2 separate regions of the Homo sapiens genome follow, and region 1 is linked to region 2. The links come from fine-mapping of genetic effects on gene expression. Tissue or cell type: whole blood. Region 2 holds a variant in brackets; the other region holds the start of a gene. All regions are shown on one strand. Distances are from middle to middle.

Region 1 (7,110 bases), 51 kb before region 2:
TAGCTGGGACCACAGGCACACACCACACCTGGGTAATTTAAAATTTTTGTGTAGAGACAAGGTCTCACTATGTTGCCCAGGCTGGTCTCAAACTCCTGGGCTCAAGCGATCCTTCCACCTTGGACTCTCAAAGTGCTGGGATTACAGGCGTGAGCCCCCGAGCTTGGTCCTGGTCATTTCTTGACTGCCTGTCACTTGGGGCCACCCAGCCCGCCAGTGTCTGACTTAGGCTTCTGGCTGATTCTCTGCGGCCACTAAGCTCACAATTGGGGAACCGACTCCATGATTTTGCAACATTTCGATGCCGGACCCTGACGCATTACTGTGAGTCGGGAGGGTCACGTTCCGTTTGTTTTTTGAGACGGTCTGGCTGTCACCCAGGCTGGAGTGAAGTGGCATTGGTGTGATCTCAGCTCACTGCAACCTCTGCCTCCTGGGCTCAAGCCATCCTTCTGCCGCAGCCTCCCGGCATGTAGCTGAGACTACAGGCGCCACCATTCCCAGCTATGTTGTTTTTTTTTTTTTAAAGAAAGAGACAAGGTCTCGCTGTGTTGCCCAGGGCAATTTCAAAATTCCTAGACTCAAGCAATCCCTCCGCCTCGGCCTCCCAAAGTCCTGGGATTACACTGGGATTACAGGTGTGAGCCAGCACACCGGCTGTGGGCCACATTACTTTTGAAAAGTTCTGGATAAAGGCCGGGCGCGGTGGCTCATGCCTGTAATCCCAGCACTTTGGGAGGCCGAGGCGGGCGGATCACGAGGTCAACAGATCGAGACCATCCTGGCGAACATGGTGAAACCCCCGTCTCTACTAAAAATACAAAAAAATTTGCGGGGCGTGGTGGTGGGCGCCTGTAGTCCCAGCTACTCGGGAGGCTGAGGCAGGAGAATGGCGTGAATCCGGGAGGTGGAGCTTGCAGGGAGGTGGAGCTTGCAGTGAGCTGAGATCGCGCCACTGCACTCCAGCCTGGGCGACAGAGTGAGACTCCTTCTCAAAAAAAAAAAAAAAAAAAAAAGAAAGAAAAAGAAAAGTTCTGGATAAAGAACAATGTCAATTAAAAAAGGGGTCCCATCAGTAGAGGCTGAAATCATGACTGAAACTAGCTTAAAGCCCAAAGCAAAACAAAAACCCGAAAGAAGGCCAGGCATGGTGGCTCGCACTATCCCAGCATTTTGGGAGGCTGAGGCAGGTAGATCACCAGAGGTCAGGAGTTTGAGACCAGCCTGGCCAACATGGTGTACTAAAAAATACAAAAATTAGCCAGCTGGAGCGCAGTGGCGCAATCATAGCTCACTTCAGCCTTGACCTTCTGGACTCCAGTGATCCTCCCACCTCGGCCTCCTGAGTAGCTGTCCCAGCTGTCCCACTTACTCAGTGCCCCTCCGGACCCAGCAATTCTTTTTTTTTTTTTTTTTGCAGAGATGGCAGCATGTCTCAAACTCCTGGCCTCAGGCAAACCTCATGTGTCAGCCTCCCAAAGTGCTGGAATTACAGGCACGAGCCACCATGCCTGGCCTAGATTCATTTTTTTAGATGCAGAGAATCTGGGCTTTGGATTTAATGACTTACCAAATAAAGGCTGTCTTTTTTTTTTTTAAAACAAATCAGCAAAACAGGGGCTCTTGGCTAGTTTGCATGAGGCATCCAGGGATGGAGAGATGTGTATTTAAGCTAAAAAAAGAAAAAGTGAAACTCACAGCAGTCTGAGTTTTTATTCAGAAAAGGAAAAAAGAAAGCAACTGAGAGCGAAATAGTTTCCTGGAATGCTGTTTTTTTTTTTTTTTTTTTTTTTTTTTTTTTTTGAGATGGAGTCTCACTCTGTCGCCCAGGCAACAGAGTGCAATGGTGCGATCTCAGCTCATCGCAACCTTCGTCTCCCGGGTTCAAGTGATTCTCCTGCCTCAGCCTTCCCAGCAGCTGGGATTAAAGGCCCCTGCCACCATGCCTGGCTAATTTTTGTATTTTTAGTGGAGATGGGGTTTCGCCATGTTGGCCAGGCTGGTCTCGAACCCCTGACCTCAGGTGATCCACCCACCTTGGCCTCTCAAAGTGCTGGGAGTACAGGCATGAGCCACCGCATCCGACCTTGAAATGCACTTTCTTTGAAACACGTCCTCCCCTTTCTCACCATAAACTCCCTCACACTCTGCAGGTTTACCTAACTGTATGCATCTAATTATGTGATTACCTAAAAGTTCCAGGAACAGGCTGGGCACGGTGGCTCACGCCTGTAATCTCAGCACTTTGGGAGGCCGAGGCGGGCAGATCACCTGAAGTCAGGAGTTTGAGACCAGCCTGACCAACATGGAGAAACCCCATCTCTATTAAAAATACAAAATTAGCCAGGTGTGGTGGCGTGTGCCTGTAATCCCAGCTACTCGGGAGGCTGAGGCAGGAGAATCACTTGAATCTGGGAGGTGGAGGTTGCGGTGAGCTGAGATCGTGCTGCTGCACTCCAGCCTCGGTGACAAGAGCGAGACTGTCTCGAAAAAAAAGAAAAAAGAAAGAACGTTTTAGAGCTAATCTGGAGACAGGCCAAGCACGGAGACCCACCTGCAAAATCCCAGAGATTTCCTCAAGGTGGTCTGCAACCCGGCCCTTATTAGGATGAGGCCAGCCTGCGCTTTTAAGCCACCAAAATTCATGAACACACAGAGCTTATAATCAGCACCTCCCCTGCACACCCACCATTCCCAGTTCCCCTTTTTTAGCCCCTCACCCCAGCCTCAAGTTTGAAGGGGTTTCTGGAGGCCTAAACCAGCTGCCTCCCTGCTGCGAACTCTGAAAGGAAGTCACCTTCCTTTCACTGCACTTTTTCCTCCTTACTGGTTTGTCAAGACTCTGGCATCGGAGCCTGAGCTGGTTACAGCCAGGCACTGTCAAGCTGTTGGGGGAGGGGATGACAAATTCCCTCCCGTTGAGAACCACTTGGTTAAACCTGTCCAACTGGAAGGAGTAACAAATTGCTCATAAAATATGCATGTTTTGGTGAAACCCCTTCTCTACTAAAAGTACAAAAACTAGCCAGAAATCGCTTGAACCCAGGAGGTGGAGGTTGCAGTGAGCCTAGCACTGCACTCCAGCCTGGGTGACAGACTGAGGCTACGTCTCAAAAAAAAAAAAAAAAATGTGCTTGTTTGGCCCAGGAGAGGCAAGAGGTCTTCTTCACCTACGTTACTGGTGAGAAAACTCAAACCTGAGGGCGGCCCACGCCGGAGTGCAGTAACAGGCAGAACTGGAACCTGGCCCCATCCCGGACTCAGGGGACGGGTGTCATATACCCCCTCTGCCTCATCCTTCCCACTCTGCTAACCTTCCAAAGATCCCCCGGGTTCCGAGTTTTCCCTGGCCGCTTGATGGGATTCGAACCTGCAAACTCAGCGCTCGCCCAGCGCAGCGGCCCCGCCTCTCCTCCCCTCCCGCCGCCCGGAGGTCATGTGAGCGCAGTGCCGGAGCGGGGCGGGGCGAGGCGGCGGCGCGCAGTGCCTACTAGCAATTGTAGTCCTTGCCCCACCTTGGCCTGGCGAAGATCCCGCCCCTGGAACTACGCTCCCGTCGTGCTCCGCGGCTCCAGGCGGAGACGAGGCGGGGTGAGGTGGGTTGGGCCGGGCCGGTTGCTAAGACTTGGCGAAGCGCTGCGCTCGCGCCCGGATCCCTCAGGTAAGCGCGCGGCCCCGAGGTCTCGGGTTCTCCAGGCTCAGACTTCCCCAGAGGGGGAGTAGGGGCTGACATGGGGGGTCTCGGCGGTGAGGGGCGCCGGCCGTTTGTGGGGAGAAAACGGGGGGCCCAGGCCAGCCTCGCGCGCGTCTCGGGCGGGCCGGTGGGCGACGCGGGGAGGCGGCGCGAATGCGCGTGCGCGCGCGCGCGCGGCGCTGGCCTGGGGGAAGCCTCAGGACCGCGCTCCCCCGGGCCTAGCGCCTTTCTGCGCGTGTGCGCCCTTATGGTCGGTGCGGGAGACCCCGTATCCTCCAGCTGCTTCCGGTGGCCCTTCCTCAGGTCATGTCCCGCAGTCCCCTGCCTCTGAACCGCGCTCTCGCGAGTTTCCGTAGCCTTCGCGTCCTTCCTCCCCAGCTCTGATTCGCCTTTATGTGGAGATTCCCCTAGGCCTTGGTACATCCCCAGAATTGACCATCGTTCCTCATCGTTACCTAGAGTATGAGTTTTTCAGGTTTTTGTATCACAGGCCCCCAGTTATCTCCCACACACTACCCCGAGGACCGAGGTTCCCCGCTGTCTTGCAGAGAAGGCCTCCTTGTAGGGTGGCCAGAAACAGAGGATCGACTCCGTGGAAACAAGGACGGCTGGGTGCAGTTCCTCACCCTATAACCCCAGCACTTTGGGAGGCCAAGGCGAGTGGATCACCTGAGGTCCGGAGTTCGAGACCAGCCTGTCTAACATGGTGAAACTCCATCTCTGCCAAAAATACAAAAATTAGCTGGGCGTGGTGTCACGCGCCTGTAAAACCAGCTACTGGGGAGGCCAAGGCAGGAGAATCGCTTGGACTTGGGAGGTGGAGGTTGCAGTGAGCCAAGATGGCACCATTGTACTCCAGGCTGAGCAAGCTAGCAAGACTCACTCTCCAAAAAAAAGAAAAAAAGATTTTTTTTTAATAAGCCAGGCATGGTGACACATGTCTGTGGTCCCAGCTACTTGGGAGGCTGAGGCAGGAGGATTGCTTGAGCCCCGGAGGTTGAGGCTGCAGTGAACTGTGATGGCACTACTGCATTCCAGCCTGGGCAACAGAGCGAGACCCTGTCTCTAAATAAATAAATAAAATACATACGTGTAGCGCCGGCCGTGGTGGCTCACGCCTGTAATCCTAGCACTTTGGGAGGCCAAGGCGGGTGGATCACGAGATCAGGAGATCAAGACCATCCTGGCTAACACGGTGAAACCCTGTCTCTACTAAAAATAAAAAAAAGCCAGGCATGGTGGTGGACGCCTGTGGTCCCGGCTACTCCCAAAGGAGGCTGAGGCAGGAAAATGGTGTGAACTCAGGAGGCAGAGCTTGCAGTGAGCCAGGATCGTGCCACTGCACTCCAGCCTGGGCGACAGAGTGAGACTCCGTCTCAAAAAAAAAAAAAAATTGTGTGTGTGTGTGTGTGTGTGTAAAGAAACAAGCCCCAGGCTGGGCGCAGTGGCTCACGCCTGTAATCCCAGCACTTTGGGGGGCCTAGGCAGGTATATCACAAGGTCAGGAGTTCGAGAGCAGCCTGACCAATATGGTGAAATCCCACCTCTACTAAAAATATAAAAAATTAGCCAGGCATAGTGGTGCACATCTGTTGTCCCAGCTGCTTGGGAGGCTAAGGCAGGAGAATTGCTTGAACCAGGGAGGCAGAGGTTGCAGTGAGCCAGGATCGCGCCACTGCCCTCCAGCCTGGGGGACAGAGTGAGACTGTCCCAAAAAAAAAAAAGCCCCCACGCAGACTATTGGTGTGCCCTGGAACTGAGCATTAGCTGTTCCCTCTCCGAGTTCTCTCCCCTACTTCCCCAGCCTTCCAGGCTGGGCTGTGGGTCACTGCCTCCGAGGAGCCCTCCTGGATTCTGCTGAAGATGGTCAGGCCCCTCCATCCCCCCATTTTCTCTTATGTACCTGACAGCCCTGCCTTAAAAAAAAAAAAAAGGTAGAGCAGGAATTCCCATTTCACAGGGGTGGAAGCCGAGGCTTGGAGGAGTCAGGACTGGTGCCTGAGTTCTCGCAGTCAGGAATTGACCGCGCTGGGCTGAACGCCTCTAGGGCAGGTTGGGGACTGGGTGTGTTTTCTGGGTGGACATACCCAGGTCCCGGCGCGGACCTTGGCCTCCTCATCTGTGGGCTTAGATAAAGGCCTCCCAGCCTCCTGTTCACCAGGGTTGTCACCACGCAGGGTCTGACTCACCTGCCTGGAGCTATGCCGGTTCCCAGCCCAGGCTGGCGGCCGTGTTCTGCTGGGACCTGGGACCTGGGCTGCCTGCCCTCCTGAGGGGTCCCAGTGGTCGGTCGCCTGCCTTCTGGGTGGGTGTGGTAGAGGGAGGGTCAGGTGGCCCCCTGCTGTTGGGGGGCAGTCGCTGTGGGAGTGAGTCGTCCCCCCGGGCCATAGCAGGTAGGTAGGAGGTGCTCTGGCAGTTGAGGCCGCCCTGGCCTGGGACAGTCAATCAGCCTGAACACTGTGCCTGTTCCGGGATTTTGACCTGCCCTCCAAGGGCGCGGCGGGCCCAGCCTGCAGTGTCCCGGCAGCTGCCTCCTCTCTGGGTCGTTTGTTTTTCATCAGACAGAGGTTGTACTCTTGGAGGGACAAGCGAGGCTGTGTTTGTCTTTTACCCTGGAGACAGTGGAGTGTTTGTGGCCTAGCAGGGCCGTGCGGGCCTCTCGGTCCTGGTCGCGCGTGGTGTGCGTTTTGGGAGGGCCCAGCGAGTCGGCTGCTATGGGCCCCACCTGGCACGGGGCCTCGGGCAGCGGCAGCACCTGGCGCTGCCTCCGCGCTTCCTGCTCCCGGCTCCCACTGCATCTCCGGTTCTGTGCTTTGTTGAACGCGTGAGCTTCGGGCAGCGCTGGGGCCGCTTCAGCGTGACCTCCAAGGCCACTGGCCTGGAGTTCCACTGGCTGCTGGTCCCCCATCTGTGGGGCGCCCCGGCGGCTGAGGCGTGGACCAGGCAGTGCATGTCGAGGAGTAGCACCCACAGCTGCGCGGCTGCGAAATGATCCAGAGACACATCCCTGTCTGCGGGAGGAGCCGTCCATACCAGCGGGGATGTGTAGTCCAGGCTGGCAGTTCAGGATCACCCGGCTGGAGTCATTTTAAGATCATCTGCGGCTTAGCCCCAGCACCATCTGAGGCAGTACTGTCTGCTAGAAATAACTGTGAGCACACAGGTAGTAAGGTTTTTAGGATTTTATTATTATTTATTTATTTGAAAAAAGGAACAGGGTCTCTCTATCTTGCCCACGTTGGTCTCAAACTCCTGTGCTTAAGTGATCCTCTCGCCTTGGTCTCCTGAGTAGCTGGGACTACATGTGCACACCACCGTGCCCAACTAATTTATACTTTTAAGCAATGTGGGCTGGGCACGGTGGCTCACACCTGTAATCCCAGCACTTTGGGAGGCTGAGGCAGGTGGATCACCTG
Region 2 (7,110 bases):
TGGGCAGCTCCCCAGGACCAAGCCCTCTCGCCTAGGGCTCCCCGGGGAGTTAGGCCGAACCCTGCTGTGCCCTTCACTCTGCAGCCCTCGTGGGGATCATCACAGAGGCAGGAGCTGGCAACCGAGGTGACTGCCTTCGAGTGGAGGGAAACCGGGGCGGGATGTCGCCCGGCGGCTCCCACACGATGAGGGGAAAAGGCACTCCAGTCTGGGTGGCAGAGCGAGACTCCGTCTGAAAAAAAAAACAAAGGAAATGTAGAAACGCAGCCCACCCAGGTTTTCCACGGCCGTTCATGGTTACGCTTCTGGAAGGACCCGTGTCCTCTCAGATGTAGCAGGATTCCGATGGGAGCCACCCCGGGTCCCACTCGCCCCCGGGACCTGCCGTGGGAGCTTTCTTTCCTGGTGGGGTGCCTGACTCTGCCTGCACGTTCCCCCCGCTGTCTGTGGCACCACTTGGGACCGGGGACCCCTGCCCCCCTGGCAAGACCAGGTCAGCTCTGCCCCCGGGCCACGGAGCAGGAAGCAGAGCTGAGGCTGCTGAGGTGGCGCAGGGTTGCTGTGGGGGCCTGTGCGCCATGGGGGCCTGGGTGGGGGTGTTCTCACTTCCCCCGGAGTCTGGAAGGCCGTCTTTGTGATGGATTTGATGCAGATGTGTCCACTTTGCTTTTGTTGATGGCGTCTGAGGCTCTGGAGTCCATGGCAGCCTTGCCTCCGTTTGCATAATCTGAATTTTGGGAAAATTGCCCCTATGTGGACTAGTTGCAGGGACAGTGCCCTCCGCCAAGGCTGCCGGTGGTGTTTGCCTTATGTGTCCGGTGCTGGGTGAGTGCCAGCTTTTCCCTGGTCAGCTCTGCCCGTGGCCCTCACCTGTGGTCTGTGCCATCACCAGGGCGAGGCTGACCTGTGGGACGGGGTCCCTGCACAGCCTCGCCGTCCCCCACATCCCCCCAACAGGGTCTGGTCCCAGCTGCCATTGTGCAGCCTTGCCCCCTCCCCCCGCATCAGGGTCCGGTCCTGGCCGCTGTACCGCGATCACCTGTGGCCCTCCTGTGTTCTTTACCTGGACTCTTGCCTTTGCTGATGGCGACCTGTGACGGCTCAGCTGCGTTCTCAGAGGCCGGCTGTCCTCGTGGGCGTCTCCGGTGCAGTCGGCGCGGTGAGGTTGGCTTCTGCCATGGACGGGGCCTTCTCGTGGTGATGACAGTCGCCCTTGGTCTGGTGTCTGCAGTGCTCCGAGGACCGGCCCTGCCCATCCCTGGCGTTCACTCCTCAGCTTCCTCCCATGGGGTGGGCGGCTTCCCTCCTCTCCCTGATTTGTGGGGTGTTTCTCTTTTGCACCTGATGCGTTAAACCCATTACCGGCCTAGGTCAGCCTGAGGTTGGTTTGTCCTGGCCGCGGCAGCTCCTGCGCCCCTCCATTGTGGAGGGCGCCCTTCCGTCTGCCCTGCGTCACTGGGCTGGGCCTGGCCCCGCTCTGCTGTGGCCCTGGCACTGGAAGTATGTGCTGCCCTGGTGTTCGGGGGCTCTTGGGTCCTGGGGCGCTGCAACCCCTCATTTTCTTTCCTTGGGGTGCAGATGAATTGGGGTGGCAGGGAACCGAGCCCACAGTGGCCAGCCCCTGCGGCCCCAGGTCAGAGGGCAGGGCCGGCCTGGACAGAGCTGCCCAGAACGGTCTGCGGCCGGGTCCACATGAGTCTAGGTGCCTCTGAGGGCACTGGGACGGCGGTGGCCTGCACCTGCCCAGCCCAGTGAGGTCCCTGGCCTCCCTTCAGCTTTGCCCTGGGCTCTGGGCTGAGGGCTGTGTGGTGATGTCAGCCCAGGGACTGTGACATCACTCAGTGGAGACAGTCAGAGAAGGGGGCTCCCGGGGCCCTCCCCAGGGAACTGGCCCTGGGCCCAGACCAGATGGAGGACCCCGAAAAGAACAGGGCAGGTAGCAGCCTGAGGCTAGGGCTGGGGAAGGGGATGGGAGCTGACGGGGAGAGAGCAGCCCCTTGTGGGATGGCTGCAATCCCCTCGTTGGCGCCCGGGAGCCATCCTTGGCGTGTGACCCGGAGCCGGCACTCGCCCCCTGGGACGGAATCGTGGCTGCGTGGGTTGGGTGGAGGCTGGGTGAGGATCAGCGTCCCTTCGTCCCTCCCTGGGGTTGTTGCTTTTCGCTGTGGCCCTCAGGCAACAGGGCAGGCCCCCAACCCCCAGGCCTGCGTGGGCACTGTGGGTGCCCAGCCTTTACGTCCTCGCTTCCTTCCAGGCCCCGGCCTTGTCTGGCTTCCCTTGGGCACCCCCTGGGGTTCGGAGAGCCCCAGAAGAGGCCGGGCTCTTCCTCCTTGGTGATGGACGGGTGCTGGGCCCTGACCGAGTGGTGACCGCCTCCAGGGAGTGATCTGCGCCCTCGGAAGCTGCTGAGTCTTGGAGTGGCGGCTCTTGTTTGTGGGGGCAGGGGGAGCTGGGCACCCGCCCTGTGCCCACGGAACACAGCCCAGGGTGGCGGCCCTGCCTGTCCTCTGACTGCCCTCCTGCTGCTGCTGCTGCTGCTGCGAGGGCCTCAGGCGCAGGCGGTGACTCTCGGGGCCACTCCTGAGGTGGGGGATGTGGGCTAGCGGCCACCGTGGGCGGCAGGTGTGCAAGCAGTGCTCCCGTTTTCCACTGGGCTGCCCTTCACCGGCTGTGGGTCAGCGCCCCCCACTGAGGCTCAGGCTGAGGCGAGGCTCCGCGGGGTGGGCGTGTGCCAGGGTGAGGCTCCGCGGGGTGGGCGTGTGCCTGGGCGAGGCTCCGCGAGTCGGGGGCAGCGCCCAGGTCAGGGGCTTCTCCGTCCATGTCAGGCTTAGGGTGGGTGTGGCTGGGCCCTCCCTCTGCTGTCCGCCCACGACCCCCTCAGAGGGGCTGTCGTGAGATGCTTGGAGGCGGGATCCAGCCCTGAGGGTGCAGGGAGTGCTCAGCGGACCCCCGTGCCACTGCTGTCACCGGAGGAGGCTGCTGCTCGGCTCCGGGCTCCATCTGCAAAGCCGGGTGTGCATCTGTGTGGCTCAGCTCTGCAGGGCACAGTGGGGTTTGCTCCCGGCCGGCCCTGAGGCCGGGCACAGGGAGGCCAGTGCTCATCCAGGGGGCCAGAGAGAAAGTAGCAACCCCAACCTGCCTGGGCCACAACA[G/C]CCAAGACCACTGTATCAGAACAGACGCCAGCGGGGCAGCCTGCTCGTTGGCCGGGCGGAGCAGGGTCGGCACACAGCCCGGGCTGGCCTTCACCCCAGCTCCCGACAGCGTTGGGTCCCTGAGTGCAGGGCCTGCCCCTTTCTCATCCTCCTGCCTCCAGGTCATGGGGCAGGGGTGCCGAGAGGCCCTGCGGGAGCCAGGACCTGAGAGGTGATGGTCACCACCCAGACGAGGGGCCGGGGGTCGCACAAGGAGGCTTCCAGGGGGATGCCAGGAGCAGTGGGGCCCTAGACCCAGCAGTGGGTAGACCCAGCAGGGCAGCGCTCACGTCACAGGTTCTGGGGGTTGGGGCTTGTCATCTGTGCAGGTGCAGCTGGGATGGGGATTTGGTGCTTTTTGTTCTGCAAAAGCCAGAACGCATGTAGCTGAGCCAAGATCAGACGGCATGGTGCCTCATGCCTGTGGTCCCAGCTACCTGGGAGGATGAGGCGGGAAAATTGCTTGAACTCGGGAGGCGGAGGTTGTAATGAGCCGAGATCCTGCCACTGCACTCCAGCCTGGGTGATGGAGCTAGATCCTGTCTCAAAAAACAAAAGACCACGCATCCTAGCCGGCAAGGCCACTCTGTACTCAGACCCGGCAGCTGTGGCTGTGGCACAGGCGCTTACCCTGCGGCATTGGCCCTTTCAGTGGTTGGTGTTGACCCTCCACAGAGGGGCTGGGTGGGGTGTGTCCAGTCCCATCTGGGTAGACTGAGTGTTGGGGATGGGAGAGTGTTTAAGGAGGTGGCGGTTACAGACTCCAGCATCGGGACACGGGGCCGTGGGTCATACCCACATCCGTGGGGGCTGTGAGACAGCCGTCCAGAAGCTTCTGTCTCCGGGCCAGGAGGACACCCCAGAGAGCCCCAGGAGGCTCGTTCCGGAATTTAGGGCTCAGCCTCGATGAACCTGGCCAGGCGGCGGTTGATGGGTTAATTCAGTTAATCACACATCACTCAGGGTTTCTCAGCAGAAGGAACTGACCAAGCCAATGGCTCACCTGGAAGAGAGAAGGAGGGAGGAGGAGGGGATTCTGCAGAGGGAAGGCTGGTGGTGGCGCCCCCCTTCGACGGTCGTGCCCTGATGCTGCGTGGCTTAAACGGTGCCACCCGGAGATTGGTGGGCGGGATTGGGCCTCTGGGGTCCCCGGCTGTGGAGAGGGCAAGGCAGGGGCGGCTAGAAAGAAAAGCAACCTGGACGCAGGCCCCACCTCCCTCCAGGCAGCCCCACAGGCCCGAGGGCCACCGTGTCAGGAGGGATAGCCTACACGGAGAGCAGGCCAGTGGCCCTGTGCCCAGGAGGGTGCCTTGCCCAGCCTGGAGGCCCGCAAGGATGAGAAGCAGTGTGTGCCCGGGAGGTCACGTGGGCACCACAGACGAAAGTGGAGCCGGGGGAGAGATGTCCCGGGATGCACCAGGCGCTCGTGCAAACCAAGTGCTGAGCAGAGAGCAGCCTGGGAGAGAAGGGGGCTGCCCCGAGCGGCTTGGGTGGCCGGGCCTGTGGGAGACCTTGGGTTTGCTGTTAGGAGGGACAGTGAGCGCAGGCACCTCTCTCTCCACTTCATGTTTGTCCTCACTGAGGGAGCCGAGCAGATGCCTTTGCCCCTGCAGGTCCCCCATGTCCCCTCGCCCGGGGCGCGCTCCACAGGCTAGGCCACTTTCACAGCTCACCACACAGGCAGAGACTGGAGGGTGCGCAGGACCCCGGGTGACTGCAGACGTGGGCACAGAGGGGCCTCTGAGGGCGTCTGGCGGCATTTGAGCAGCTGCCAGATCTCCCCTGGAAACACTGGGGTGTGTGCTCGGTGGGTGCCGTGTGTGGGGGGTATGTGCTCGGCGGGCGCCGTGTTTGTGGGGTGGGAGCTAGGCGGGCGCCGTTTATGTGGGGTGGGCGCTCGGCGGGCACTGTGTGTGTGGCACGGCCACTGCTTAGGGCCCCCTGGAGCTGCGGGGCACACGGCAGAGCCAGCCTCATGTCACCACGTGCTTCCCCCGTGTGCAGGGAGGGGTTGGAGGTGTGCGCTTGTCTTGTCCGGAAGCCGGGTGTTGGGACGCGTCCTGACGACGGCACTGCCCACATCCTAATGGGACACCTGAGGGACATCGGTGGCTGAGTAAGGGGCCCCTCCCGAGCAGGTCTGGAGGCGTTGGAAGCACAGCGCAGCCTCATGGGGCACCTGCCTGCTCTGCCTGGAATTGAGGGGCGATTGGGACTCCCACTGCCCCCACCAAAGCCTGTGCCCCTGATGTCTGTCCAGAGCACGGCTTCCTTCTCGGTGGTTCCCAGAGGCCGCTGGGCCTCGCTTCGTCCTTTTTGGGCAGCGAGTGTGTATGTTAGGGGAACAGGAGCCCGGCAGGGCCGTCTTGCAGGGCTCAGCAGTGGGGGCCGTGGGGTTGGTGCACCAGGGCAGGAGAGCTGCCCGGCTCCTGCTAGGTGTCTAGAGGGCCTCAGCTCTCCCAGGCACTGTCCCCTGTCCCCCCATCTCCCCTGTCCCCCCCATCTCCCCATCCCCCCGTCCAGGGCCGCAGCAGCTCAGCTCTCCCAGGCACTGTCCCCTGTCCCTCCGTCCCCCCGTCCAGGGCTGCAGCAGCTCAGCTCTCCCAGGTACTGTCCCCCGTCCCCCTGTCCCCCCGTCCCCCCGTCCAGGGCCGCAGCAGCTCAGCTCTCCTAGGCACTGTCCCCCGTCCCCTCGTCCCCCCATCCAGGGCTGCAGCAGCTCAGCTCTCTCAGGCACTGTCCCCCCTCCCCTCGTCCCCCCATCCAGGGCCGCAGCAGCTCAGCTCTCCCAGGCACTGTCCCCCGTCCCCCTGTCCCCCCATCCAGGGCCGCAGCAGCCCAGCTCTCCCAGGCACTGTCCTCCGTTACCCCGTCCAGGCACTCTCCCCCCGTCCCCCATCCCCCGTCCAGGCACTGTCCCCCCTCCCCCCGTCCCCCCCACCCCCGTCCAGGGCCACAGCAGCCGGTATTGAGTGTGGGTATGAGCTTTGGCTCTGGGTCCTGAGCGTCCCTTCCCCAAATTCCCCATGTGGCTTCCCAGTCTGCATCTCCATCTGCTCCCAGGGTGCGAGTTGGTTTTTGTATTAATAACTGAGGTGTGACACTCGGGCTGTACCCGCTAGCTGTGTAACTCATGCAGCTCAGTGCCTTTAGCTCATCATGAGGCTGTGTCTCTGTCTGTGCCATCTAATAGAGGATATTTTCATCCTCATGGCGAGAAGGGATGGATTTGTTTTCCTCGTGAAGTCGGTGACGTTTGCTTTTCAGGTTTGGTTGGTGGCCTCCAGTCTCTTGTCCTCAACGAGGGTTTTGGCAGCTCCCTCTCAGTGGCCTGTGAGTGTCCCCACTCCCTTGTCTGGGAAAGGGCTGGAGCTCTGGGGCTCACAGAGAGGGTGGGTGTGATGTCTTTTTCCTGACGTGGCATCGGGGTGTCTTACCTGCCCGGACACCTGCCTGCGCAGGGTAGCACAGACCCTACAGGCTGCGGCTGAGCCCCCAGCACCCGCCCCACCTTTAATGCTCGGCCCCCAGCACCCGCCCCACCTTTAGTACCACCCTGAGTCCCCCAGCACCTGTGCCACCTTTAGTGCCACCGTGGGTCCCCCAGCACCCGTCCCACCTTTAGTGCCACCCTGAGTCCCCCAGCACCCGTGCCACCTTTAGTGCCACCGTGGGTCCCCCAGCACCCGCCCCACCTTTAGTGCCACCGTGGGTCCCCCAGCACCCGTCCCACCTTTAGTGCCACCCTGAGTCCTCCAGCACCTGTGCCACCTTTAGTGCCACCGTGGGTCCCCCAGCACCCGTCCCACCTTTAGTGCCACCCTGGGTCCCCCAGCACCCGCCCCACCTTTAGTACCACCCTGAGTCCCCCAGCACCTGTGCCACCTTTAGTGCCACCGTGGGTCCCCCAGCACCCGCC

The links. PIP is the estimated chance that this variant, and not a neighbour inherited with it, causes the effect.
Region 1: SCAMP4 starts here. The variant in region 2 is fine-mapped to the expression of SCAMP4 in whole blood (TOPMed, PIP 0.95).

Annotation. Positions count from the first base shown.
Region 1 is chr19:1,901,779-1,908,888 of GRCh38, forward strand. It overlaps SCAMP4 (secretory carrier membrane protein 4), which reads left to right and starts at 3,621. Exons shown (of 7, transcript NM_079834.4): 1 at 3,621-3,661. ADAT3 (adenosine deaminase tRNA specific 3) reads left to right here and starts at 3,621. Exons shown (of 2, transcript NM_138422.4): 1 at 3,621-3,661. RefSeq lists enhancers at 2,615-2,674, 2,955-3,014, 4,035-4,124, 6,200-7,011 and silencers at 3,345-3,674, 3,725-3,874.
Region 2 is chr19:1,952,780-1,959,889 of GRCh38, forward strand. All of the region lies in intron 1 of CSNK1G2 (casein kinase 1 gamma 2), which reads left to right. It overlaps CSNK1G2-AS1 (CSNK1G2 antisense RNA 1), which reads right to left and starts at 1,770. Exons shown (of 3, transcript NR_033400.1): 1 at 1,064-1,770; 2 at 607-727; 3 at 1-232. RefSeq lists an enhancer at 2,151-3,102. The variant G/C (reference allele first, on the strand shown) is at 3,153.